Linked DNA regions of Homo sapiens: regions 1, 2 and 4 are each linked to region 3. The links come from fine-mapping of genetic effects on gene expression. A gene starts in region 3. Each other region holds a variant in brackets. All regions are shown on one strand. Distances are from middle to middle. Region 1 overlaps RAB3IP (RAB3A interacting protein). Region 2 overlaps BEST3 (bestrophin 3). Region 3 holds the start of RAB3IP (RAB3A interacting protein). Region 4 overlaps RAB3IP (RAB3A interacting protein).

Region 1 (6,323 bases), 74 kb after region 3:
AACTTGGTTCCATTCTCCCCGTCACTTTCAGGTACACCAATCAGACGTAAATTTGGTCTTTTCACATAGTCCCATATTTCTTGCAGGCTTTGTTCATTTCTTTTTATTCTTTTTTCTCTAAACTTCTCTTCACGCTTCATTTCATTCATTTTGTCTTCCATCACTGATACCCTTTCTTCCAGTTGATTGCATCGGTTACTGAGGCTTGTGCATTCGTCACGTAGTTCTCATGCCATGGTTTTCAGCTCCATCAGGTCCTTTAAGGACTTCTCTGCATGGGTTATTCTAGTTATCCATTCGTCTAATTTTTTTCAAGGTTTTTAACTTCTTTGCCATTGGTTCGAACTTCCTCCTTTAGCTCAGAGAGTTTGATCTTCTGAAGCCTTTCTCTCTCAACTCGTCAAAGTCATTCTCCATCCAGCTTTGTTCCGTTGCTGGTGAGGAGCTGCGTTCCTTTGGAGGAGGAGAGGCGCTCTGATTTTTAGAGTTTCCGGTTTTTCTGCTCTGTTTTTTCCCCATCTTTGTGGTTTTATCTACCTTTGTTCTTTGATGATGGTGACGTACAGATGGGTTTTTGGTGCAGATGTCCTTTCTGTTTGTTAGTTTTCCTTCTAACAGTCAGGACCCTCAGCTGCAGGTCTGTTGGAGTTTACTGGAGGTCCACTCCGGACCCTGTTTGCCTAGGTATCAGCAGTGGTGGCTGCAGAACAGCAGATAGTGCTGAACCGCAAATGCTGCTGCCTGATCGTTCCTCTGGAAGTTTTGTCTCAGAGGAGTACCCGGCAGTGTGAGGTGTCAGTCCGCCCCTACTGGGGGGTGCCTCCCAGTTAGGCTACTCGGGGGTCAGGGAGCCACTTGAGGAGGCAGTCTGCCTGTTCTCAGATCTCAAGCTGCGTGCTGGGAGAACCACTGCTCTCTTCAAAGCTTAGCTGGAAATGCAGAAATCACCCGTCTTCTGTGTGGCTCACGCTGGGAGCTGTAGACTGGAGCTGTTCCTATTCGGCCATCTTGGCTCCACCCTCCAGAAATAAAAACTGGTTTAGGTTTTTGAAGCATAAGGGTAATTTGGATAAAGAGCAATACATAACAACTGAAGGCCTAGAAACAAATCAAAGTGCGTTCAAAGGATGGTCAGTGTATGGAGAGGAAAGGGAAGATGTGACATTTTAAGAAAGAAAAGTTAGATTGGGGTGGGGGGATGGGTAAAGGAGAAAGGAGTTAGAGATATCTGACTGGAAGACTGATTTGAAGTGATTGTGGAAATTAATGGAAAAGGCTTTGATTTGTGGAAGAGGATTACGGTCTAGATTTAGACATATTGACATCCTCACATGAAAATGGGAAACAAGGATTTGAAATCTTGGGACTAGAGTTATAGAGATTTATTAATGTAGTGTAGCATGTTTGGGAAAAAAATGGAGTTGGAGGTCAGAGGTCTGTTTGCATTGAATCCTGGCTTAACTAAAAATACATTAGGTGTGTCCAGTTTACAAAATAGCTTAGAAATGAGATCTTTTAAGAAACGCTATACACCATGGAATACTATACAGCCATAAAAAAGAATGAGATCATGTCCTTTGCAGGGACATGGCTGGAGCTGGAGGCCGTTATCCTTAGCAACCTAATGTAGGAGCAGAAAACCACATGCTGCCTGTTCTCCCTTATAAGTGGGAGCTAAATGATGAGAACACATGGACACATAGAAGGGAACAACACACACTGCCGCTTGTGGAAGGGTGGAGGATGGGAAGAGGGAGAAGATCAGGAAGAATAATGGATACTTATTCTTCCTGAATCACCCAGGGTGATGAAATAATATATACAACAAACCCGCATGACACATGTTTACCTATGTAATAAACCTGCACACCCTGCAGTTGTACTCCTGAACTTACAAGTTAAAAAAAAGAAACACTTATTATTTTAAAAGTTGATACTTAAAGCCACCTTACCAGATCCCTTTCAAAATTAGGCTAAACAGTAGACCAGCAGGCATATGTCTGTTTCCAGAAGAATAGTGTATAAATTGGTTTTTAGCAGCTTAATGGCACATTTTCCTCTTATGCAAATTATACTTTTGGAAGTTCCACAGACTTCCAACACTTTGTGCTTTAAATTTCTGTATCTTCTATCCTCCCCAAGCTAGTAGTTAGTGCTTTTAAATATTGTTACAGATCATTAAAGGAATTTGCTAATAAAGAAACAATGAAGAAATATCTATTTGAAAAAAGACAGGAATTGATTTGTGATTTGAATTGCCCCCTCCTCAAAAATTATCCTGTTTCAAATACACATTGTTGTGTGTTTTCTTAATACAAAGGCACTTTTGTATTATATTTCTTGTATCGCTAAAATGTAATGTTATTTAATATATTTACTATATAATTTATACTGTCATATAAAATGCTGTTTGCCACTTACTTAGAGCTATGCTAATTTTGCATTGATGGGGAGTGATAGTTGTATTGAGCCAGGTTCCTAGCTTAGGGTGACAGCTGGGCTGCTGCAAGTCCGGCCTGATAGACATGCTAGCTTTATCTCATGGAGCCATAGGGTAACAGATGGCTCATTACTTATTCAGCAGTCATTGAATGTGTGCTGTGTGCCAGGCATTTAAAGATGAATCAAAGTCCCTGCCCTCAAGAGGTTGATAGCCTAATCCCAGCCAGAAAGCCCTCATATAAAATTTTAGCTTTTGTCATATGCAAATAGAAAGGATCATGTGAAATTCAGTGAACTTGTTACATGATTGTTAAGATTCAGTATTTTTATAAGGTGGCTTATTCCTTTGTACTTCTCCCTAGGTCCCACATTAAATGCATATAGAGCAACCAACCAACCAAATAAACAAATACCCCATCTGGAAACTATTACCCTGCAAGCTATCAATAACATGCTTTGAGACTTGAACAGTCATCATGAGGATATTTTCAGCTGAGAAGCTGAAATCCTGATGGAAAGCTGAGAGCTGTCCTGCAGCTGATTACTGATTTGTAAATTTGTTCCAAGATGGGACATACATGGAAAACACCTAGTTTCTGTTTCTAGAATCATGGTTAATGTTATGGCATTAAACTTATACTACTAATAGAATGTAAGTCTCACAAGGGCAGAGACTTTGTCCTTTTCATCACTTTAGCCCAGCATCTAGAACGGTGCCTGGTACACAGTAGGTTCTCAAATATTTGTTATCTAACTGAATGAATAGGCAACTTGTACAGAAGGTAGGGGCAAATGCTTTTCATTTCAAAAAACTGAAATTTATCATTATTTCACAGAAAATGTGCTCTCACTGGCCAGAGTAAGTCCTGTAAACACAGAATTAAATTAGGGGACTCAAGCAACTATTATTATATTTCTCCTTTTTGCAGATACAGGGTAAGTGACTTAACCATGAATTTTAATAAAGCTTGCTTTGATATGGGACATTTGACCATTCATGACATTTTCTCCATTTGGCCTAGATCACTTCTGTATGTAACTTTTTTACATACATTCGATACATTCAGCAGGGACTCGTGAAACAGCAGGATGGTGAGTGTTCTTGATTCAATATAAGTCTTTACATAAAAGTTCAGCAAAAAGTATAAGTAAAGTTCAACAAAAAGTATAGAATAGTAGTAATGCTCATATCAGCTTTATTGTTGGTACATTTATATTGAATCCCTTCTATAGTTCTAATAAAATTTGTGGAGAATTTGGGAACAAATGTCTTTTAGAAAAATATTGTGTTTAATTATTTTATTTGCCTCATTTTACTCTTAATTTTGAATTTTAAGCAGGGTCAGTTTTAACTCATAAGGGGTATATGATAAACCAGATGGTAAATGAGAAGAGAGTTCTAAGCTCATTGAATTGACTCTTTAAGAGATGAAAATGAGTAGGCCAGCAAAGTGGTCAGATTTATTTTAATTGATGGAAACCATCATGGAGCTCAAAATTAAGTTTTCCCTGTATTTTCTACTTTTTGCGTGTGAATTAATAAAGCAGTCATGAGGATAATTCTGAATGGAATAAAGATTGCCATATTCTAAATCAGCAGAAATGTGCAGGTGATATATCCAGGAGAACCAAC[C/T]TCATGAAAGTGTGTTAATATTTTTAATACAATTTTATAGCTAAATATCTTAAATATCAGGCATGAAAACTAATATGGCCTGACAGCTCCAAAGCAGTATCTCTCGAGCACAAATGATAGTTTAAAAAAAAAAATAGCAGATACTAGGCTAGGGACAAGTCTGTGCCAGTTAGTATTTAAAGTTTTACAAAATTTCCCTGTTTATATTTTTTAGGCACTGAAAATATTATCTTGCTTAAACACTGGTAGAAGCCTACCATCTTTCAATCATGTAAAGCAGTGAATCTTAATTCTATGGAGAAGTTAGTCACGCTGATAAAAACTTAGTTTAGCCTTTCTCAAGGTCTGGTATGTTGAAAAATGTCATATTTCTTTAAAATCCCATATAGTTGGATTTTAATGCCTAAAACATTAGAGATAAAACCTGTTAACCTAATAACCTGATAACCTAATTAATGTTGAATTTCAAAAGGCCTAATAACATAAAAACAGTCTTTAAACTGTGTAATACTTTTTTTGACTTTAATAAAACTGAATTCTTTTTGAATACCTGTTGATGGATAATATAATTTAAGCCAGAGAACAGAAAATTTATGTTAAGTATAATTGCCAAGAATATAATATTTTTCTGTTTGTTTAAATAAGAAGCTTGGAAAGACAGAAAGATAATTTACTTTATGAAAATAGGAAGAAAGTGTTACGAGTAATGAATGGTGAGGGTGTTGATAATAAAAGTAGTATATCTTCTCTGGTTTCTGTCACTCTTCCACTTTATGATATTTAGTACATATCATTTAGTATGTGTGTTTGTTGTAAACAGGTATTAGTCTTAAAATCTGTTTATTATATGTGCCTTGTGCCAACAAAGGATTTAGGGCAGCTAAATCTAAAGCAGAATTTCTCGACCTTGGTACTAGTGACATTTTGAGCTGGATAATTCTTTGTTGTGGGGGACGGTCTTGTGCATTTGTAAGATGTTTAATAGCATCCCTAGCTTTTACTCATTAGATACCTGTAGCACCCCCGAGATGGGACAGTGAAAAATGTTTCTATTCATTGCCAAACGTACCCTGGAGTGGCCAGGGAATGAGGAGTGGTGGTGGTGGTAGTGGTGGAATCTTCCCTGATTGAGAACCATTGATCTAAATGAATATAATCTGATCATATATCAAACGAAGACCTTTTATTGTCTGAAATAAGGAGCCAACGTTTTTCCACTTACAGTGGGAACTTACAAAAGTATAGGTAATTGAATTTACAATTCATCTTCCACATGCATTTTTATTTCTAATTTGAGCCATACACAAAACCTTTCTGTTACTTCTCACAACGTTACTGAGTTTTCTGGATTGTCTTGTTTTCTTTTTTTGCCCTTCACCCTCTGGTAGTGTTAATGAAGAGTAAAATGGCCGCGATATAACAAACTAGAGCAAGAAGATTCGTAAGTTAGAGAATAGCTCGAATAATTGAGTATTGAGTATATTCACTTAATGAAGGTAACAGCATTGACATTTACTCAGGATGCTGAATGTCTACCTTTTCTTGGGCTAAAATGATAGTCTCTGATGTATTTAACAAATAATTGTGACAAAACTGGTGACTTTTGCTTTATTGATAAAACTGGGATGGTCACAAGTCTGTGGAAAAGTTTATGTGAATTATTGAAAAAATGTAGGTACATCTTTAGGAAATGCACAATTGACATTTCAGCTAAGGTTTTCAGCGAAACATTAAAAATAATGAAGATGGTATTTTATGATTTAAATATCTCTCTTTTCTGTTTGTATAGTTGATCAGATGTTTTGGGAGGTTATGCAGTTGAGAAAAGAGATGTCATTGGCAAAGCTGGGTTATTTCAAAGAGGAACTCTGATGCTCTGCGTGGGACCATGCCTGAACTCCCCGAATAACTGAAAAATGGCTGAATATTTTTATGGTTACTTGATATTTATTTCCAAGGAGTGAGCCTAAGACTTTTTTCCCCTTTTGCAAATTGCTCTAAGAAGTACCATGATTTCTTTTAAACTGATCTATGCTGTGTTTGCTTATTCTTTAGTTGAACACACTATGAAGAATTCCAGGTGTACTAGTGAATGTAATTTATAGTTGCCAAAAAAAAAAAAAACCTGAAATAAATAAATGTTAGATTGAATGTGTGTACATTTTCTCTTCTAGCTCTGACATGGCATTTAGGGTTAGCAGAATGTATTAAATAGTAATTTTCAAACTACACAGTAGCTTCCTTCCTT
Region 2 (5,000 bases), 49 kb before region 3:
CTTTTACCAAAGTTCCTGAGTTGTTTGGCTTTTAAGCAGTAAGTGACCCAGACCTGAGTTCCATTTATAGGGCTAGACTTAGAGCCAGAGCATCTGAAGTTAGAACTTTTATCTCAACATCCATTGACAGCTGGTGGCTTGCTTGGTTATATTAATGTCTGTTAACCATAAGTGTCACTGAAAATTCCAGTGGAGTCTCATCAGGCTCCCTGTAGTCATAGAAGACAGTCAAGAATCTTTACATTAAGATTCCAGGGCAGGCCAGGTGTGGTGGCTCACACCAGAAATCCCAGCCCTTTGGGAGGCTATGGTGGGAAGATTGCTTGAGGCCAGGAGTTCAAGACCAGCATAGGCAACATAGTGAGACTCTGTATCAAAAAAGAAAAAAAGGAAAAAAAGGGATTAAACAAATAAATAAGTAAATTGGCCAGGCACAGCGGCGCACATCTGTAGTCCTAGTTGCTCAAAAGGCTGAGGCAGGAGGATGGCTTGAGCCCAGAAGTTTGAGGTTACTGTAAGCTATGACCGTGCTACTGCACTCCAGGTTGGGCAACTGAGTGAGAACGTGTCTCAAAAAAAAAAAAAAAAAGACTCCAAGGCTTTAAGAAAATTAAAGGGTGTTTTTTTCCTCAGAGGTTACTGTCTTATAACTACTCTTATGAACTACTAAATACAGACAGAAACTATTTATTTTAGAGAGAGAGAATTGCAATGCAGAGATGTAAAGTTTAACTGTAAATATATTTGTGCTTGTTTATGACAATGATTAATTTAAGATAAGATTTGTAGTAAATTTTACTAATCCTTGAGTATGGGGACCATATTTGTTCTGCTTATAAGGGTAGTCCCAGTGCCCAGCACAGTGCCTGGCATATATTGTACACACAATAAACCTTTGTTGCATGAGCAAAGGCGTAATAGTTCTAGCACCAGCTTGGTAATGTTTCTTTAAGAGGAATGTATATAATTTCCTATTACATATCATTGTGCTTCTGGTAAGTAATTTTGAAGATAACTACTTTCCTCTCCTGATGCTTGTAAATACTAGATAAGATGTTTTGATTCAGTATGAGACCATACTATATGCACACAACTAAGGTCATCACTTGACTCAGCCAGGATCTGGAATTGTGCATCTGACTTGACTTGGAATGAATGACATCTCCCAGGGCAGGTGATTGGAATGACTGGAATTTTCCAGAGCAGATTTGTAGCCAATAGGCAAAAGTAACAGAGACTGTTGCAGTTTCTCTGATAAATAACTGATCACAGACCAGTTCAGGGACTTTTCAGCATAATAGACATTATTCCGAATTCCACTGTTGTATTTTTATTTTCATATAAGCAGAAACAAAAACTTTTTTATTTTTAATTTGAGAAATTTAACCTGTAGCATCAAATTATATATATTTCCCCAGCAGCATGTGTTTTGGTCTTGTTATTTTTCAGAATAATGTAACTTGACTGTCCAACTTAAAAGCAAGAGAAGTTCAAGGATGAGCAGGTATGTGACCTAGTTCAACCAGCGCCAGCCAAGAAATTGCCAGATGCTTCAGAAGGAGGTGCTGGTCCTCACTCTTGGCCCTCTCGCTTATTTCCTTCTGGCCAGCACTGAATCTATGGAGGCAAAAACCCTTGCAGAAGAAAGAGAAGCTGGAGGGAAACTGATTGCCTCAAAGCCCATTGCTTCCCAGAGCACAAGCCAGGGACCACCAGCCTCAGAGTCTCCAGGAGTTTGTTCAACTCATTGATTCCTGGAGCCCATTCCAGACCTACTGAGTCAGAATCTCTGGGAGTGGTATCGTGGGATCCAAATTTTTAGCAATATTGATTTTAACAATATGTAATGCACCCTGAAGTTTGAGAACATGTACTTTTTCTTACAGGTGATTTTATGTAGAGAATTCAACTGACAAGAAGGTCCCTCGTGCCCTTAACCTTGTCCCCACCCCTTTGGGGCCCTCAGTGCTTTACTTACCAGTCCTCTCTGCCCTCAGGCAGGAGCAGGTGCTCCGGCTTTGGACTCAGGGAATCTGCCAAACATTTTCCGCCATCCCTGAACTTCCTGTTCTTCCCAGAAACCTTGGCACAGGCAAAGGACAGTCAGAGAGTGGCGGAGGCATATGCCCAGTTGGAAGAACTTGGAAGCAGACCCCATGTGCAGACTCTGAGTCAGCCCTCTCTGCTGGGGAAAGCAGCAGGAAGTTCAG[T/C]GAGTCAGCGCTGCCGGTGACAGCGGGTGCCGGCCTGGGGCAGCCAGGAAGACAGGCCTCCGAAGCGTCTCTCCTGGCTTAGAGGATAGTGGCTTGGAACCTTTGCCCTGCCGCCTAACACACAATGCTTGCGTATAGTATGGTCTTATACTGAATCAAAACATCTTATCCAGTATTTACAAGCACCAAGAGAAGAAAGTAGTTATCTTCAAAATTACTTACCAGAAGCACAATATATTCCTGTGGGGACAAGATGTACCTACTACCTCTTTTCTGCCTTTTGAGAAAATACTTAGGAATTAATGAGAGCAACTGGGACCTTTTCACTGAGATAATCAGTGATTGTGTCACAGGACCCTTGGAAAGGCTTTCACCTCATCACAGCTCCTCTGTCAATTCTCTTCTCCCTTCATCCGCTTCAGACAAACCAACCAAAAAGTTTAAGTCAGAACAATGCTTGTTACATCCAAGCAGGTGGAATTCAGATCCCTTATACAGTAGCCTCCCACCAGACTGCTTCCTCAAAGCTCTTCTTTGTAATTCATGACCCTCAAGCTGAAACCTCGAATCCATCCTTTCTTAATTGCTGCTGCTTTGTTATCAGTAATGAGTTGGTGGTTGCCAAAGCCTTTTGCCCCAGGAGTGAGAAAAAGGGTTTAAAAAATAAGCATCCCAGAAAAGATGCAATACTTCTCAAACTTTGGGGTACTAAAAAAACCAACACAGGAGCATGTTTCACTGCAGATTCCTAGGCCGTACATCCAAAGGTTCTATTAGGTTCTATAATAATTCAGAGGGACTGACGTGGGTGGGACCCAGGAATATGCATTTTAAATAAATAAACTCAAGTTATTCAAGATGTAGAGGGCCTGTGGGTCTGTGGATCACTCCTAGAGACTAGTTTAAATGTACATCCAGAAGTGAAGGACTCATTTTGAGATTCCCTTGGAATGGCAGAAACATTGGTAGCTGAGCAGATAGAAGTATTTCAGTATTCCACATGCCTCGGAAAGGGAAAAGTCTGAATGCAAGTACATGGCAGACATCTGTACAATTTTGAGAGGGAGTGGGCCTTTGTATTCTGAAAAATACACTCAAAGGAAATGAAATCACGTCATTTTCCTATTTGCCTCCCTATATCTACTTGCCCCTCAGACCTGAGCACAGCTCAGTCCTCGGAGCTCATGTCTGACCAGAGGCCCCAGAGGCCTCTCCATTGCCAGCCAACCTGGCTTCTTCCTGGTGTGCTTTTAATATGAAGGTGACACTAAGAAGATGAGATTTGCTTTGAGGATTGGACCCGGCATCTGATTCCTGTCAGAATGCACTCTCTTCATTTCAAGGATGCGTCAGAACTAGAGAAATATCACCTCTGTTCATCCAAGTAAACTTTAGCTCATCAACTTGGAATAGGTCATACGTTTCTTGTTTGTTTTTAGGTCTTTCTTAGAGACGGTAATTCTTAATCTATTTGTTCCTGGAGACATTAAGGTAAGATAAAATTGAGCTGTCTAGTAGCATTTTTAACTAGGTCATTCTGAAACAGTATTCTACTTTCATATTTGGAGGAAGGATGGCAATTAATTTTTTTTTAAAGTTCCTACTGATTTTACATTATCATATACCTGTACATGTGCCAGGCCTTCAGACCCTCCCCCTGAATCCCCCTTAACCAACTCCTGGCACCCATTACTTTCTCATATCTCACTCTGCGTCTCTAACAACATCATCTACACCCTTCTTCCTTATTTCAACCTTGACATTCACAACCTCTTGATCAAAGTAGATAAAAAAGACCTGGGATATTATATTAATAACAAGTCTTCTAAAGTGGCTACTGTGCTATGTTATGCTGTTGTTTGAGATGTAATTTCATTACAATGGCAAGAAATTATGCAGCACTTACTGTGTGCCAGGAATGCTCTAAACATTTTGCAAATGCTAACTTTTTTAATCCTCATAACAAGCCTATGGGATATATGAGGTAGGTGCTATTATAAGTTACTTTAAGTCCATTTTATGGATAAGGAAACTGAGGAACAGAATGGTTAACTAACTCAGACAAAGTCATGTAGCTAGTAAGCTGTGAGATAAAGTTTCAAACCCTTACTCCGTGTTCTTAATCATTGTGAAATTTGATAACATAATTGGGTCATTCTTGTCGTACCCAACTAAAACAGAGTCAAGAAGCCACCAGGAAAAAGCAGTTGAGGCCAGGCATGGTGGTTCACGCCTGTAATCCCAGCACTTTGGGAGGCCGAGGTGGGCGGATCACAAGGTCAAGAGATTGAGACCATCCTGCCAACATGGTGAAACCCTGTCTCTACTAAAATACAAAAAATTAGCCAGGCGTGGTGGTGTGCGCCTGTAGTCCCAGCTGCTCGGGAGTCTGAGGCAGGGGAATCGCTTGAACCCAGGAGGCAGAGATTGCAGTGAGCCAAGATAGCGCCACTTCACTCCAGCCTGGCCACAGAGCAAGACTCTGTCTCAAAAAAAATATTCTTTGCAGGCCTGGTTGCTGAAACTGCCTGCTATTACCTGAAACCAGTTTTATAGTTGCTGAAATGATCTGCTGCAACTTGAAGACTAATTTTACCCACCTCCATCACTCACCAGTCAAAACTTGCCAGCTCCCCAGAAACTTACTAGTGCCAATGAACTTTCTCAAAGAGCAATATGTAACATTTCTGTCTTTTTATAAAACCTCCAACCTTCTCTTTGTATTTTGGACATACTGAATACCATCTGGTCTGTGTGTATGCCTCAAACTGGAGTTCTTTCTTCTCAAAT
Region 3 (8,051 bases):
ATTATTTTAAGGACAGAAGGATTTCTCACAGAACCTATGGGAAGGGATGAAGGAAGCCTCAGTAATAGAGCGATAGCTGGAATTAAAAAGTAAGGGGAGGCCAGGAAGCCCTCTCACTGTGTCTCATCTCTCCTTCTCTTCCTTCTTACTGAAAATTATTTACACAGTTGTCACAGAGAAGCTACAAATAAATATTTGTTTGATGGATGGCAATTTGTGTGTGTGATAAACTGGATCTAAAGTCAATTCTCAAAACGTTTTGTTATATATATGTAGCTTGTTAAAGTGATTCTTTTGAAGGGGGGAATCATACTTTTTAGAGTCTAAGCTCTCTCTTAAACCCTTTCTCTCAGCTTTCCAATTTTTCCCAGTCACTTATTCCAACATCAGAAAGGGGGCCTGAAATACAGGATTGTCCATAATTAATATCATGACAGACACTTTTGAGATTGCTCTGCTTTTTTACAGGAGTTGCAAAAGTCAGTTTTTATGAGAACACAAGCACTGGCACTCACTGACTATTTTGGCAGACAAGGAAATGATAGATTAATTACTTTTGGTACATTTTTCCCATAACTGTCTTTTTTTTCCATTTCATTTTTGCATTGTTACTATTTACCAGTCTGAGTTCTCACTTACACCTAGTTTTTGCCCTTCAGGGTTTCTTATATTCTTGCCAACTCTTTGATATGCTTGATAAGATGTTTTATATATATTTATATATATTGCTTTGGGTTTGAGAATCAGCCAGAGCCTCTAGTCTGCCATACTACTGGACACAAAAGTTCAATATGTTTTCACTTCATTCGTTTATAAGATATTAACCTGCATTCCAAACACCAGGGCCCTAACTCTGGTGGCCTAAGCTCCCCATCCACAAAAATGAAGAATAACTACCTTTCCACCTGCATCAAATTGTTTTTTGTACAAGACTCATGTAATCATTAACATGAAGTCAGTTTGCAACTGGAAAATACCATGAAAATACATTTTCTTAACTCTGAAAACAAAACAGAGGCAAACAAGTAATAAAAGTTATAACTAAGGGTAACAACCTTAGAATGGTTTGTTCAATTTACAATGTCTATATATTTGCACTCATCTGCTTTTTTTCTGGCCCAAGGTATAAATGAGAAAGTCTTAAGATAAAAAAAAAGCAATATTATTTTATACGTTATATTTGACACTAATTGTATAATTTACATTTTTAAAAAATAAAGAGAAAAAAATAAAGAGAAAAAGGCAACCTTGAGCACACTATAAAATCTTTCACTCTTTTTTTTTTTTTTTTGAGATGGAGTCTCACTCTTGTCACCCAGGCTGGAGTGCAATGGCGCGATCGGCTCACTGCAACCTCTGCCTCCCGAGTTCAAGTGATTCAAGGTTCAAGTGATTCTCCTGCCTCAGCCTCCCGAGTAGCTGGGATTACAGGTGCCAGCCACCATGCCCGACTAATTTTTTATGTTTTTGGTAGAAATGGGGTTTCACCATGTTGGCCAGACTAGTCTTGAACTCCTGACCTCAGGTGATCTGCCCACCTCAGCCTCCCAAAGTGCTGTGATTACAGGTGTGAGCCACCGCGTGCGGCCTTTTGTTTTGTTCTTTTGAGACAGGGTGTCACTCTGTCGCCCAGGCTGGAGTGCAGTGGCGTGATTTCGGCTCACTGCAGCCTCCGCCTCCCGGGTTCAAGTGATTCTCCCACCTCAGCCTTCCAAGTAGCTGGGACTACAGGTGTGTGCCACCATGCACAGCTGATTTTTTTTTTTTTTTTTGGTAGAGATGGGGATTCACCACGTTGGCCAGGCTGGTCTCGAACTCCTTACCTCAAGGATCTGCCCACCTTGGCTTCCCAAAGTGCTGGGATTACAGGCATGAGCCACCGTGCCCATCCAAATCTTTCACATTTTTAAATTTTGTGAAATAGCTGTCCTTTTTATATATGGGTAAGCTATCAAACTTAAGATGCTCACAGCCCTTTACATACTTTGTAGGCTGAGATTCTGAGTGTCTAATATTCTGTAATGTATCTTGGTCTCTGTGCTGCAAGAACACTGAAGTATTATTATAGGTAACAATCTATATCACTCTTCTCAAACAGCGCTAACAGGTTAAGTATTCAAGAGGAACATCTTTCAGTATATTTCAAAAAGCCTCATGGATGGTAGGTGATTTGTAAATGGACCAACGCAGGACTCAGGCATATATGGTTACTGCTTACTATTTCCTATAGATCATGATGTCTTAGGTCTTATGTAGAATATATCATAGGACTTGTCCTCTAAACATTCACATACCAAGACTGCACTCTGCATGCATGCCATTCACTCATTCTGCATTTACTGAGTCAGTCCTACTGCATGTCAGACCTTGTGCCTGTTCTCAAGAAGCTCGCAGTCCAGGAAAATGGAGAAATACAGATACAATTATAACTCTATGTGATAAGTGTTACAAAGAGATACGGTGTTATGGAAGCCCTGGTAGGGGCACTTAGCCCATACTGGAGTGGCTGGGATAGGGCTGAGTGGCCAACAATAGGGAAGGGTTCACAGTGGAATTGATGTCTAGGCTAAATAATGAATAACAAATAATTAGCAAGGCAAGGAAAAGGTAGGAGATCAAGACATAAAAATAAACAGCATATGGAAATACAGGGTTGTATGTGAGTACGGCAAGACTGGGGAGCCTAAGTGGTTTGCTGTATATTTAATTTATTCATTTCACGTAGCTACTATTGACATACTTGTCTCCCTATATATGTTTGAGTCCGTGGATGGTGGGGACTTTGTAATGGTTTCTCTGTCCCTATGTCTAACAGGAGGCACACAGATGGAGTGCAATAAAATGTCTGATGAATAAATGACCAGCTATGAGGTGTAAGGGAGAATAGGAATCCATTAATGAGAAAGGTCATTTCTAGTGGCAATGAATATCAGATAAGATAGATTTAAGAATTATTTAGAAATTAGGATGAATAAGACTTGGTGATATATTGGCGATGGGGTATAAAATAAGAAACACTGGCTTTCTAGGTTTCTGGATTACAGATGCATGATAATAGTTATAATGGTATAATAACAATAGCTAATATTTATTAGGCACTCTGTGTCATGAAGTACGCAAAGTGTTTACATGAATTAAGCCATTTAAACTCTTAATGACTCAGTGAGGCAGGTTCTGTATACTCATTCACTGATGAGAAAATTGGGGCTAGAGAGATTCATTTGCCTAAGGTCACTCAGCTAGCAGGTGGCAGGCTCAAGCCCAGTAATTCTGACTCCAACAACCATACATATAGTCTACTTTTCTTTACTGCCTCTAATAGATGAGATTAATACCCAGAATGATGGTCCTATTCAATAAGTGTATCACACAAATGCACGTTTCTCTTTTGCTAAACATAGAGACACATACTATGACTACCTCTATTATTATTATTTTTTTTTGATTTTTGGGATCTTGGCTCTTTCTGTATTTTTCCTACCTGGAAGACCTAAAGTGGGGTAGAAGTTTGATAAAACAGTTGGCACAAAAGATGAGAGAAGACAGGTACAGACATGACATTCTCGAACGCTCTGGCAGTTGCTGGAATGATGGGATCTGGGTTCTACAGGATTCCTCCCCTCCCATCTCCCGCCACACACACACACGTCGTAAGGTGTATATGGCCGCGGAGTCTCAGGTTGGTTCTAGGAGTCCTCAACCCACGGCAAAGGTGCCTCTTCTCCCTCCTGGAGAGCCCAACATGCTTGAAGTTAACCTGAGGCCGCCTCTCGGGCCCGGCGAAACAGAGCGCGGGCCCGACGAAACAGAGCGCGGGCCCGACGAAACAGAGCGCAGCTCCGGCTCGCGCTGGTTCCCAGGGAAACCGCCCGCGGAGGAACCTCGGGCCAGGGCCGTGACACCTGCGACGAGCCCCGCCTGGCGCCAGGGGGCGCGGAAGCGCGTCCGCCCCCAGGCCCCATGCCGGGCTCGCCCCGCCCCTGCCGGCCACACCCCCCTACCCCGCCCTCCCTCCGTGAGGACCGGCCGCTCCCGGCTCCCGGCCCCCGGCCCCGCTTCCGGCGCAGGCGCAGTCCCGCGTTCCCTCGGCGGCTGCCGGCGTAGTGAGCCCGCCGCCGTGGAGTGTAGCGGAAAGGGCTCGCCGTCCTCCTCCGTTTCTCGCTGCTTCGGGACGCGCTCTCTGCGGCTCTGTGAGCGCCCCTGAGCGCCGGCAGCGGCCGCGGTGGGTTCTTCAGGTGAGTGCGGCCGCGGGAGGGAGAGGCCCGGAGCGTAGAGCACCGCCCCCCTCGGCGCCCGCGCGCCCGCCTCTGGCGAGTCGGCCAGGAGGGGCGGCCGCGGCAGGTGCAGGTGCTGGCGCCGTGCAGGGCGCGGCACGCGGGGGTTCGGGGGGATGCCCAGGCCCGGTGAGCTCGCTCTCCGCCTGGGCACTTGGGCTCCGGGCCCTTGGGGGCGGCGTGTGGGGGGGACTTTGGCGACCCGGGTCAGCCGGCCGCCCCCTGGGCTGCTGGTGGGCGTCGGGCGGCGGCTCCTCCCCCGGGCACGGGCGCGTTACACATTAACTGCGCGGTCCCGCGCGCCCGGGGCAGGGAGCCCGAGTCCAGCGGGTTACCTGGCGGCGGGCGGGCGCGGCCGGGAGCGGAGGGCCGCGGTCGCGAAGAGGATGAAGAGAGAGTTCCCGAACAAGTCGGAAGCAGCTCACAACACCGGACGCCGCGCGGCAGGGCTGTGGACCTGGGGTGGTTTCGTGTCCCAGTCTTAGGAAACTACGCGCGAGGCACCGTGCTGAGGCGTAGAGGTCACCCTCGGGAGGTTTCGGTGAAACCTGGTGGGAAATTCCGGGCAGGCGCCCGGAGTCGCGCCCAAGTAGGCAGCTCCGTGCCGCCAGACTTGTGTTCGGGGGAGTTGAGACGAACTGCACGGGTGGGATTGCATGGCTCTGCCCTCCCAGCGTTGACAACTCGCCCCGACCGCCCAGGAAGCGCGAGCTTACTGGCTCCAGAAGTGATGATGCTGGGTGGAAGTCGCAGCATGTGAAGAGTTGCCGGTTGTTATGGGATTAAAAAAGATGAAAGGGTAAGGTCTTGAAAGACACGAGCGCTGAGTTAGTTAGTACTGATTACTGAGAGGCAATTTAGTTTCATGGAAATGTTGCCTGTTCGGAGGCTACCTGTTATACACTCTCCTGTTTCACCCCAACTCCTTCCGTTCAGTGTCGGGTTAAAAGCCTTGTAATCTCTTGCAGTGGAATGATTGCATAATTGGAGGAGGGGCCCATAAGAGGATTACAACAAAACTGTTCCATTGTAAATCAGTTGAAAGACCCAGTTCTTGTTCATTATCCTTTTTCTCATTTTGTTGTTCATGAAGGTTTTTTTTTCTTCCAGTGCTGAATGACAAATCAAGGAGAAAAGAGGCAGAATAGGGTTGTAGACCAATCGTAGTAAATATTTGATACTGTTAAATATTTCACCAGTTTTATGGGGCCTTGTTCTGTTATCATTTGTTATTTATTTACTAGTACTGTGCATTTTGATAGGACTTTTCATGTTTGGACAGACAGTGTATTCCAGATGCGGCTTATGTGATCTAATCCTAAAGCCCTTGTGGAATTTATAGAAATAAACAGTTATACAATTAAGTAGTCCATTTTTTAACTATTAAATGAAAAGCCATTGCATTTTTTTCCATTACAGTAATGTTACATATTAATGTATACCTTTGTGAACCAAAGTGTTTGATACAACTCTTCCTTCTGTGTTTGGTAAACAACTCATCTGTGGTACTGAATACTTGTAATCTTTCACCAGGATGGCCATTTAATGTTTAGCTGCTTTGTGGGATTTCTGAATAGATCCTATTGTACTTTTTGAATTAGTGCAGTTATCCATATGTTTCCTTTAATATTCTTTACCTTTGATTTTGTCTAAACTCTCATCCTCCCCCAACACACACATCCTCTACAAATAATTTTTAAAATGGAAAGGTTCTTAGAAATGTTTCACCCCCTCATTTTTTAAATATGGCACGAAAAAATACTTTGTAGATTACAGTAGTTTTATATGCATTATAGTAGTTACTATACTTTTTTCCTCCTCAACAGGAGTCAGTGAACAAATTAGTGAGCTGGCTGAATGAAAAATTATTTAATGTTCAGCTCCATCACTTACTGTGCATAAAACCTTGAGTAAAACATTTAACCTGTTTGAGCTTATTTTCTCCATTTGTCAGTGGAAATACTATTAGGTTGAAATTGCTAATATTCTGCTGTTTTTTATGTTTCAACCTAATATGAACTTCATAATGGTAAGATGAGGATTTAATAACATACTCCATTAGAGATGTGGGGAAGGGGAGAAGGAACCAGTGTGAGCTTGATTGTGTGCAAGGCACTGTGTGTGCTTGTTTTCGATACCTTGACTCCTCAGTCCTCTGGACATTCCCGGGATATAGGTGGTTTATCAAATTTTACAAGTCAGGAAATGGAGGCTTAGAAAGTTGCGATAATTTGTCTATGGTTACTTAGTTGTAGGTGGTCGTACAGCTGGCCAGTGACAGAGCCGGTATTAAAAACTGTATCCGACTGCCCAAAATGGAACGTAGTGCTTTTGTTTCTTACATTCCTGGTCTGCACCTTCTATTAAAGAGCTTTGTAACTATAAGGAGGCACACAGATGACAAGTGTTACCATTTGTATTTCTGGTTTAAAAATATCCAAGTTTTCTGAAGACGGTGATACCAGCATTGCTACTACAGTTACTTTTAAGTCTAGTGCTTATCAAGCGAAGTCCTGGTGTAAGCTTTATACTCATTTACTCTCAGAGTGAGCGAGGAGATAATACTTTATCCCTATTTTGTAGTTGAGAAAATTGAGACCCTGAGACCTTATGTAGTTTGCTCAACGTCACATAGTTAATTAAGTGACAGGTCTAGATTAGATGTCAGACAGTTTGTCTTCCATGTCTGTGCTCTTAACCACTACACTCTGTCATTTCTTCATGTATAAGTGGTAATGCTAAAGAATTGTTTGCTCATAATCACTACATTATCACTTCTTTATGTGTAGCTTATAATGCTGAAGAACTTTGTAATTTAGCTTTTATGAGATACGTAATGTTAATGTAATATGTAATTCTCATTGTGTCACCAGAGATTTTTTTAAATCAAATACTCATTGAGCATCTACTCTGCAAGTCACAGTAGGGGTTAAAGGAAACTGTTCTTAAGGAATATGGAAGGTAGGGCCTTATAATCATTCCCATATCTTTTATAAGTTCTTCAAAATGTAGAACGCACTTTACATATTTTAATGAATGTCAACTAAGACAAAGTGCTAGGATAGTTGAGTAGTGGAGAGGAAGGACAGATGGATAGTGGGTAGAGATATTTGTGCATTGAGGTAATGAGGGAAAGCTTTGAAGATATTCCAAGGGAGTACGCTTTTTCACACTAAACTTTTTTCCGATATAATTCTGATTAAGATGCAGTTCATCAAAGGATAGTAAATTGGTTACTACGCATTTGATATCCTAAAAACAAAATATCTGAGCTTTTGTAAACTGCTTTCTAGCTTGTTTCTCCTTTTTTATGCTACTATCCTTAGTTGTACCAGATGGTACTCTTTTTAAAAATTTTATGCTTTTATAATACTGAGTACCTCTTTTTTGGTATTTATGAACTTTGATATTTGTGTTGTATTTGTAATTGTTTCTAGGGCCCTAGAAACATGTTTATTGGCAAGGTGGTCTCTTCCTCTAGTCTACAAGTGCTTCGAGAGTAGGGCTTACCTCATTTTATAGCTTTAACATCGGGCCAGGTAAGTACTGTGCTGTGTTTGGTGATGGATGATCAGTTGAAGAATGTTAGGATGTTTTGAAGCTGCTCTAGCAGTAGAAATTGAAATGAACATTGAGAAATGAAGGGACAAAGGAAGGAAGAGGAAGATATTTATACAACTGGGAGCATTAACTTGCTATCTCTATTTTCCCTTCTGCTTTCCTTTTCAACTTACCACTAAATGAGGTAGTTTTATAAGCTTACATCGTACATAGTCA
Region 4 (8,051 bases), 63 kb after region 3:
CTTTGGGGTTTATGTCCTTTTTCTTTTCTTTCTTTTTTTTTTTTTTTTTTTTTTTAATAAATTTGCATCTTTCTTTTTTTTTTAATTATTGTTATACTTTAAGTTTTAGGGTACATGTGCACAATGTGCAGGTTAGTTACAGATGTATACATGTGCCATGCTGGTGCCCTGCACCCACTAACTCGTCATCTAGCATTAGGTATATCTCCCAATGCTATCCCTACCCCATCCCCCCACCCCACAACAGTCCCCAGAGTGTGATGTTCCCCTTCCTGTGTCCATGTGTTCTCCTTGTTCAATTCCCACCTATGAGTGAGAATATATGGTGTTTGGTTTTTTGTTCTTGCGATAGTTTACTGAGAATGATGATTTCCAGTTTCATCCATGTCCCTACAAAGGACATGAACTCATCATTTTTTATGGCTACATAGTATTCCATGGTGTATATGTGCCACATTTTCTTAATCCAGTCTATCATTGTTGGACATTTGGGTTGGTTCCACGTCTTTGCTATTGTGAATAATGCCGCAATAAACATACGTGTGCGTGTGTCTTTATAGCAGCATGATTTATAGTCCTTTGGGTATATACCCAGTAATGGGATGGCTGGGTCAAATGGTATTTCTAGTTCTAGGTCCCTGAGGAATCACCACACTGACTTCCACAATGGTTGAACTAGTTTACAGTCCCACCAACAGTGTAAAAGTGTTCCTATTCCTCTACATCCTCTCCAGCACCTGTTGTTTCCTGACTTTTTAATGATTGCCATTGTAACTGGTGTGAGATGGTATCTCATTGTGGTTTTGATTTGCATTTCTCTGATGGCCAGTGATGGTGAGCATTTTTTCATGTGTTTTTTGGCTGCATAAATGTCTTCGTTTGAGAAGTGTCTGTTCATGTCCTTCGCCCACTTTTTGATGGGGTTGTTTGTTTTTTTCTTGTAAATTTGTTTGAGTTCATTGTAGATTCTGGATATTAGCCCTTTGTCAGATGAGTAGGTTGCGAAAATTTTCTCCCATTTTGTAGGTTGCCTGTTCACTCTGATGGTAGTTTCTTTTGCTGTGCAGAGGCTCTTTAGTTTAATTAGATCCCATTTGTCAATTTTGTCTTTTGTTGCCATTGCTTTTGGTGTTTTAGACATGAAGTCCTTGCCCATGCCTATGTCCTGAATGGTATTGCATAGGTTTTCTTCTAGGGTTTTTATGGTTTTAGGTCTAACATTTAAGTCTTTAATCCATCTTGAATTGATTTTTGTATAAGGTATAAGGAAGGGATCCAATTTCAGCTTTCTACATAGGGCTAGCCAGTTTTCCCAGCACCATTTATTAAATAGGGAATAAATTTGCATCTTTCTTAAGAAAGAGTAACAGACTTAGGTCATTAGTGTGTGCTCATATAAATCAATATATGTTGGGAACAAATACATTTGAGAAGTTAATATTAAACAGACTGTTAAATTGGAGATGTGACATCTCTTATTAGAGCCAGGAGGTAAGTGAATTAGGAACAAAGATTAAAGAGTCTTATTTAGAAGATAAATGGAATTGAGGAAGTGTCCTTTTTCTCAGTAACTTTACAAAGAAAATGCATTTGAAAATGTAAGTATTGCTTATATGCTAATATTATTTATCCTGTTGCTTTTGCTTTGATTCAAGGAATTTATGAATTGGGCTGAAAAAAATATTCACATGGAGATTGCCCTTATACACCTTAAAAGGAAGTCTGTAGGAAGGCTTGGCTACACTCAGCTCTATGTTACATTTTTGTAGACTACTTGCACATCTGATTGAGCTATCCTAGAGGCAGTCTGTAGCTGTAGTCAGTGCATCATTTATGGTGTATCCAGTGCCTCTGGAGAAGAGCAGCTTAGAGCTGTAGGATGGGGGAGACTGCTCTAGTTTGGGTGGCTGATGTCAGTGCAACTTTGTATTCCAGCAGATGCTATTGAGCTGGACTGAGGGAATCTGAGAATCTGTAGGGAAGAATACTTGGGGAAAATTTATTAGGGAGGTGAGAAAGAGAGGGATAGCTGGAGGAGTGAATAGGAAGGCAGGTGCCAGCAGTGGATTATTATTGATGCCTAAGATGGTAGTTACTGGGTGCCAAAAATATGTCAAAAATATCTAAATAAATGTTGTATTTTAAGGTAGTTTAGAAGGCTTTACGTATTCTTTTTTTTTAATCCTGTTGGTTATGCAATAACATTTTGACAATTCTTTTTGGAATGCCTTCAAGTTATAGTAGAACAATTAGTGTCATTTTTGATCCCAAACTAGGTTTCACAGTTCAGCCAGTCTCAGTTTATTCAGACACTATAATTAATTAGGTTCCAAATTACCTTTTTATTGTTTTCAGAAAAGACTTGTCATCATTTATTATATTCTGAATAGTGTGCCACCTGTGTCTTAAGAGGAACTCCAGCATTTTTGGTGGGGATGGGAGAAGGAGCTCAGAGTGAGGATAATAGTAGTGTTATTGAACATGGTAGTGAATGATGCTTGGAAAAAGGCTAATTGGTTATTTGAGAGTCATTTTTTAAAAAGGAAAACTGCTACCAGGTATTATGCTACCAGGTATTATTTGAGAGTATTTTTTAAAAAGGAAAACTGCTACCAGGTATTGAACCACCAAGAGTGGTTCAATTTATTATTTTAAATGAAGAGCTTTTTTTCAGTGATGTTTAAATTAGTTTTGGTTTTGTAAAGCGGTTTTTATGTTTATACGTTTTAAAACATGTTTTTGTGTTTTCCTTTGGTTTGTTAGGCTGACTTATCCTTGTATAATGAATTCCGATTGTGGAAGGATGAGCCCACAATGGACAGGACGTGTCCTTTCTTAGACAAAATCTACCAGGAAGATATCTTTCCATGTTTAACATTCTCAAAAAGTGAGGTAATTTTTTTTCATTTTAGTAGGAATTCATTATAGTTGTTTCTGTACTTCTTTTAAACTAAATCATATTACATATTTTAATATCTCTTACATAAATAAGTTATTATAAAATGTCATGTTTTGCTATTTTTGCCATTCCGTACTAGAATCATGATAATTTCTTGGCATTCAGTTACTGAACATCTTTTCTTATATGAGCAGAGGATCATTCACACTCAAATGTGTACTGCATTGGTGTCAGGTATTAAATAGGTATGGGGGATAGGACTTATTTCTTGATTTGCAGTCCAAGGTTCAGTGTAAGGGAAGTTCTCTACACACTCTGTTAAAGGCATTTGTTGTGTCTATCTGTACATGATTTAAAAATCTAATTTTTTATCTTTAAAACAGGAAAAGTAATGCCTTCTTTGCCTGTGCCACAGGATTGTTAAAAGGATAAAATGAAGTGGATTAAGTAGATGCAAAAACCTTAGAAAAATAAGGCAGTATAAAAATTTAAAGCTGTAATTTTAATTTGTTCTTACATGTGAAAGGTTTGTCTACAAATATCCGGTCAATTAAAGTATAAGAAATTTAATCCTAAGAGTTTTATGTTAAGTCTTTCAAGCATTTAATTATAACGTTGCTTACCAGGAGAAGTTAAGATGAACATTTTTCACACTTTTGGTATGAATATATCTTGTTCATTGTGGCTCTGTATCTGGTTTCAGGTAGGCCATTCAGTATTAGTAACCTTGCCAGACTAAAGAGGTTTTCCTGTTTCATCTGGTGTTAGTTGCTACCGTCTTCATCTGGGCATTTAATATTTGATAATTCAGCTAATTCTTTTGTAGACTCACTCTTGTGCACATAAATACAAATTCAGAAAATATGCAGCTAATTAATATATATTGCTGTGGTATAAATGACCAATGTTTAAAAATATTGTATATATTTAGCAGAATAAAGCTTTAGGATATTCATTTTGAAGTGGCATTAACTGTGGATATTAATCGTGGGTAAGGAGTGAACAGAGACTGGAATTGATGCCTTGAATCCTCGTCCAGATAATGAGGAAAGTTATTTTACCATAAGTGAATTGCCTTTCATAACAGTGTTTGGATTATAAAATAAATCAAACCAAAATTATCTGATTTCTTCCTTTTTCATTTGCTAAAGCCAAGCTAGTGGAACTTTGGAGAAGAATAATTTATAAAATTCGTTTACTGTAGAATACAATTTTGATATTTTTCTGCCAGTATAGCATCTAGTACTTTTTCTTTTTTTTTAAGTTGGCTTCAGCTGTTCTGGAGGCTGTGGAAAACAATACTCTAAGCATTGAACCAGTGGGATTACAACCTATCCGGTTTGTGAAAGCTTCTGCAGTTGAATGCGGAGGACCAAAGTAGGTTTTTACGTGC[A/T]TGAACTGTGAAAGTGACTGAGTTTTTGAAATGTTATGGGTTGCAGTTATTTAGTTTTTCTGGTTTTAAATGTAGTTATATTTCCCTCAGATTTCTCTTAAGCGTCTGTGTAGCCTAGCCCAAAGACAAATTCCTGAGACAGTGTGGAATATAGTATTTCAGATTTAGCATTAAAGGAGAGCCCTTTTAATTATAGGTTGGTGCAAAAGTAATCGTGCTTGTTGCCATTGAAAGTAATGGCAACAAGCACAATTACTTTTGCACCAACCCAATACAGTAATATACATATATGATAGAGATCCAGGTAAACTAGAGATAGAAACCGGAGTTGTTTTTGTTTTTGTTTTTAACCTCATATTGTGACCTATTAGTGGATTGTGAAATCAGTTTAGTGGGTCATAAGTAGAATTTTTTTTATTACACGTATATGTGTAGCCATGTGTCCTGGGTTTCTGTATAAAATACTTCTCTCTGAGGGTGACCATCAAAAATAGTTTGGGAAGGTACTGAGTTAGACTAAGTCTTATCGATCATGAAAACTGTGTACCAAAAAGACTTGATGAGATCTCTCTTTTCATATTGTGTTTATAAAGGATTCTCACTTAAATAAATAATCAGTTTTGTCTTTCATATGTGAGTCTTACTTGAGAATTACAAATCTTCAGAGATAAGACTCCCACATTTCATAGCAGGGCAGACTTGTTTTCCATCCAGTCCTATAAGGAGGAATGACTGAAACCAACAGTGCTTAAAACATCTAGCAAAGACGAAAGGTTTTGCCTAAAACCGTGGCATAATTGTGTCTTGGCTTCTGTTTAAAAAATGACTTGGAAAGCTTTTGAGAAAGATGCTTATTAAGTGCTTAGAGCCAGATCAATATAGGGGACTGGAAAGACTGAGAGAGCTCATAGAAAGCATAACTGACTGCTGTCAGGGTTATTTTGAAGCCAGAAGAGGAAAAGACTGGTTGAGATGAACTAATAGGTCTGTGTTAAAGCTGTTGTAGGAATTGTGTGCTTGTTTCTATTCCCTGTTACGCACGTTACGGTCTCAGCAAGATTACAGAATGTTGTTGTTTAGGTGACCATTTGTTGGAGGGTTCCTAGTCATATGTTTGCTCTGTGAGCCACACGTCCACCTCGCTCCCTCAAGCCACACGTGTAGCACGGTGGCCTCTGAATTTTAGGGAAAGAATTTACATTCTTAAATTCTACAAATACCCAAGTATTTTTGTTCTGATCCTTCCACCCCAAATATGGAGAGTTAAATTTAATCATAGCAGTTTTCTTATTTTTAAGGTCTGTGTCATGCCTCATTTTAAATATAGCATATAACTGTTTTTATTGTAGAATTTAAAATTTGTGCTTGCATTATATATCACATATATATGTGCAGATATCATCAAATGATAACAAATGGGGATATCAAATTAAAGTGGATTTATAGTATCTTTAGTAAAATAATTATAGTTTAGATTTAGAGAACAGTTTACAAAGTTTAAGGATATTGTGCTTGTGGGAATGGGGCCAGAAACCAAGGTGATGCATATCGTGGAAAAAACTAAAGGAAGATACTGTCTTCCTTTATGAAATGTGAAGTGTGGCTTTGGCCGTGGTTCTTGTGAGCTAGAGTGTGAAGATAATGACTAAGTGAGTGGCACAGCACTGTAGGAATTTTGAGGAAGACAAGATCATTCAAACTATGATTAGGTACTCTTCTTGAAGGAAGAGAGATTTGGTTTAAGTTTTTTTTTTAATTTTTTTATTATTATTATTATACTTTAAGTTTTAAGGTACATGTGCACAACATGCAGGTTTGTTACATATGTATACATGGGCCATGTTGGTGTGCTGCACCCATTAACTCATCATTTAGCATTAGGTATATCTCCTAATGCTATCCCTCCCCACTCCCCCAACCCCACAACAGTCCCCGGTGTGTGATGTTCCCCTTCCTGTGTCCATATGTTCTCATTGTTCAGTTCCCACCTATGAGTGAGAATGTGCGGTGTTTGGTTTTTTTGTCCTTGCGATAGTTTGCTGAGAATGATGGTTTCCAGCTTCATCCATGTCCCTACAAAGGACATGAACTCATCATTTTTTATGGCTACATAGTATTCCATGGTGTATATGTGCCACATTTTCTTAATCCAGTCTGTCATTGTTGGACATTTGGGTTGGTTCCAAGTCTTTGCTATTGCGAATAGTGCCGCAATAAACATACATGTGCATGTGTCTTTATAGCAGCATGATTTATAGTCCTTTGGGTATATACCCAGTAATGGGATGGCTGGGTCAAATGGTATTTCTAGTTCTAGATCCCTGAGGAATCGCCACACTGACTTCCACAATGGTTGAACTAGTTTACAGTCCCACCAACAGTGTAAAAGTGTTCCTATTTCTCTACATCCTCTCCAGCACCTGTTGTTTCCTGACTGTTTAATGATCGCCATTCTAACTGGTGTGAGATGGTATCTCATTTTGGTTTTGATTTGCATTTCTCTGATGGCCAGTGATGATGAGCATTTTTTCATGTGTGTTTTGGCTACATAAATGTCTTCTTTTGACAAATGTCTGTTCATATCCTTTGCCCACTTTTTGATGGGGTTGTTTTTTTCTTGTAAATTTGTTTGAGTTCATTGTAGATTCTGGATACTAGCCCTTTGTCAGATGAGTAGGTTGCAAAAATTTTCTCCCATTCTGTAGGTTGCCTGTTCACTCTGATGGTGGTTTCTTTTGTTGTGCAGAAGCTCTTTAGTTTAATTAGATCCCATTTGTCAATTTTGGCTTTTGTTGCCATTGCTTTTGGTGTTTTAGACATGAAGTCCTTGTCCATGCCTATGTCCTGAATGGTATTGCGTAGGTTTTCTTCTAGGGTTTTTATAGTTTTAGGTCTAACATTTAAGTCTTTAATCCATCTTGAATTAATTTTTGTATAAGGTGTAAGGAAGGGATCCAGTTTCAGCTTTCTACATATGGCTAGCCAGTTTTCCCAGCACCATTTATTAAATAGGGAATCCTTTCCCCATTGCTTGTTTTTGTCAGGTTTGTCAAAGATCAGATAGTTGTAGATATGCGGCATTATTTCTGAGGGCTCTGTTCTGTTCCATTGGTCTATATCTCTGTTTTGGTACCAGTACCATGCTGTTTTGTTTACTGTAGCCTTGTAGTATAGTTTGAAGTCAGGTAGCGTGATGCCTCCAGCTTTGTTCTTTTGGCTTAGGATTGACTTGGCAATGTAGGCTCTTTTTTGGTTCCATATGAACTTTAAAGTAGTTTTTTCCAATTCTGTGAAGAAAGTTGTTGGTAGCTTGATGGGGATGGCATTGAATCTATAAATTACCTTGGGCAGTATGGCCATTTTCACAATATTGAGTCTTCCTACCCATGAGCATTGAATGTTCTTCCATTTGTTTGTATCCTCTTTTATTTCATTGAGCAGTGGTTTGTAGTTCTCCTTGAAGAGGTCCTTCACATCCCTTGTAAATTGGATTCCTAGGTATTTTATTCTCTTTGAAGCAGTTGTGAATGGGAGTTCACTCATGATTTGGCTCTCTGTTTGTCTGTTATTGGTGTATAAGAATGCTTGTGATTTTTGTACATTGATTTTGTATCCTGAGACTTTGCTGAAGTTGCTTATCAGCTTAAGGAGATTTTGGGCTGAGACGATGGGGTTTTCTATGTGTACAATCATGTCATCTGCAAATTGGGACAATTTGACTTCCTCTTTTCCTAGTTGAATGCCCTTTATTCCCTTCTC

What was found. PIP is the estimated chance that this variant, and not a neighbour inherited with it, causes the effect.
Region 1: its variant is fine-mapped to the expression of RAB3IP in testis (GTEx, PIP above 0.99).
Region 2: its variant is fine-mapped to the expression of RAB3IP in fibroblasts (GTEx, PIP above 0.99).
Region 4: its variant is fine-mapped to the expression of RAB3IP in subcutaneous fat (GTEx, PIP above 0.99).

Annotation. Positions count from the first base shown.
Region 1 is chr12:69,809,500-69,815,822 of GRCh38, forward strand. RAB3IP (RAB3A interacting protein) reads left to right here. Exons shown (of 11, transcript NM_022456.5): 9 at 3,279-3,378; 10 at 3,465-3,534; 11 at 5,865-6,323. The coding sequence ends at 5,947. Among named protein-coding and RNA genes, the nearest start is that of MYRFL, 13 kb to the right of the region's middle. The variant C/T (reference allele first, on the strand shown) is at 4,076.
Region 2 is chr12:69,687,092-69,692,091 of GRCh38, forward strand. The region is part of intron 4 of BEST3 (bestrophin 3); the gene reads right to left. It overlaps LOC105369823 (a long non-coding RNA gene), which reads left to right. Exons shown (of 5, transcript XR_007063358.1): 4 at 1,450-1,504; 5 at 1,610-1,985. Among named protein-coding and RNA genes, the nearest start is that of BEST3, 9.7 kb to the right of the region's middle. RefSeq lists enhancers at 1,235-2,434, 2,561-3,129. The variant T/C (reference allele first, on the strand shown) is at 2,211.
Region 3 is chr12:69,734,797-69,742,847 of GRCh38, forward strand. RAB3IP (RAB3A interacting protein) reads left to right here and starts at 4,064. Exons shown (of 11, transcript NM_022456.5): 1 at 4,064-4,235. It overlaps LOC101928002 (a long non-coding RNA gene), which reads right to left and starts at 3,754. Exons shown (of 4, transcript NR_110072.2): 1 at 3,482-3,754. RefSeq lists a silencer at 3,812-4,641.
Region 4 is chr12:69,797,446-69,805,496 of GRCh38, forward strand. RAB3IP (RAB3A interacting protein) reads left to right here. Exons shown (of 11, transcript NM_022456.5): 7 at 2,764-2,892; 8 at 4,164-4,276. Among named protein-coding and RNA genes, the nearest start is that of MYRFL, 24 kb to the right of the region's middle. The variant A/T (reference allele first, on the strand shown) is at 4,293.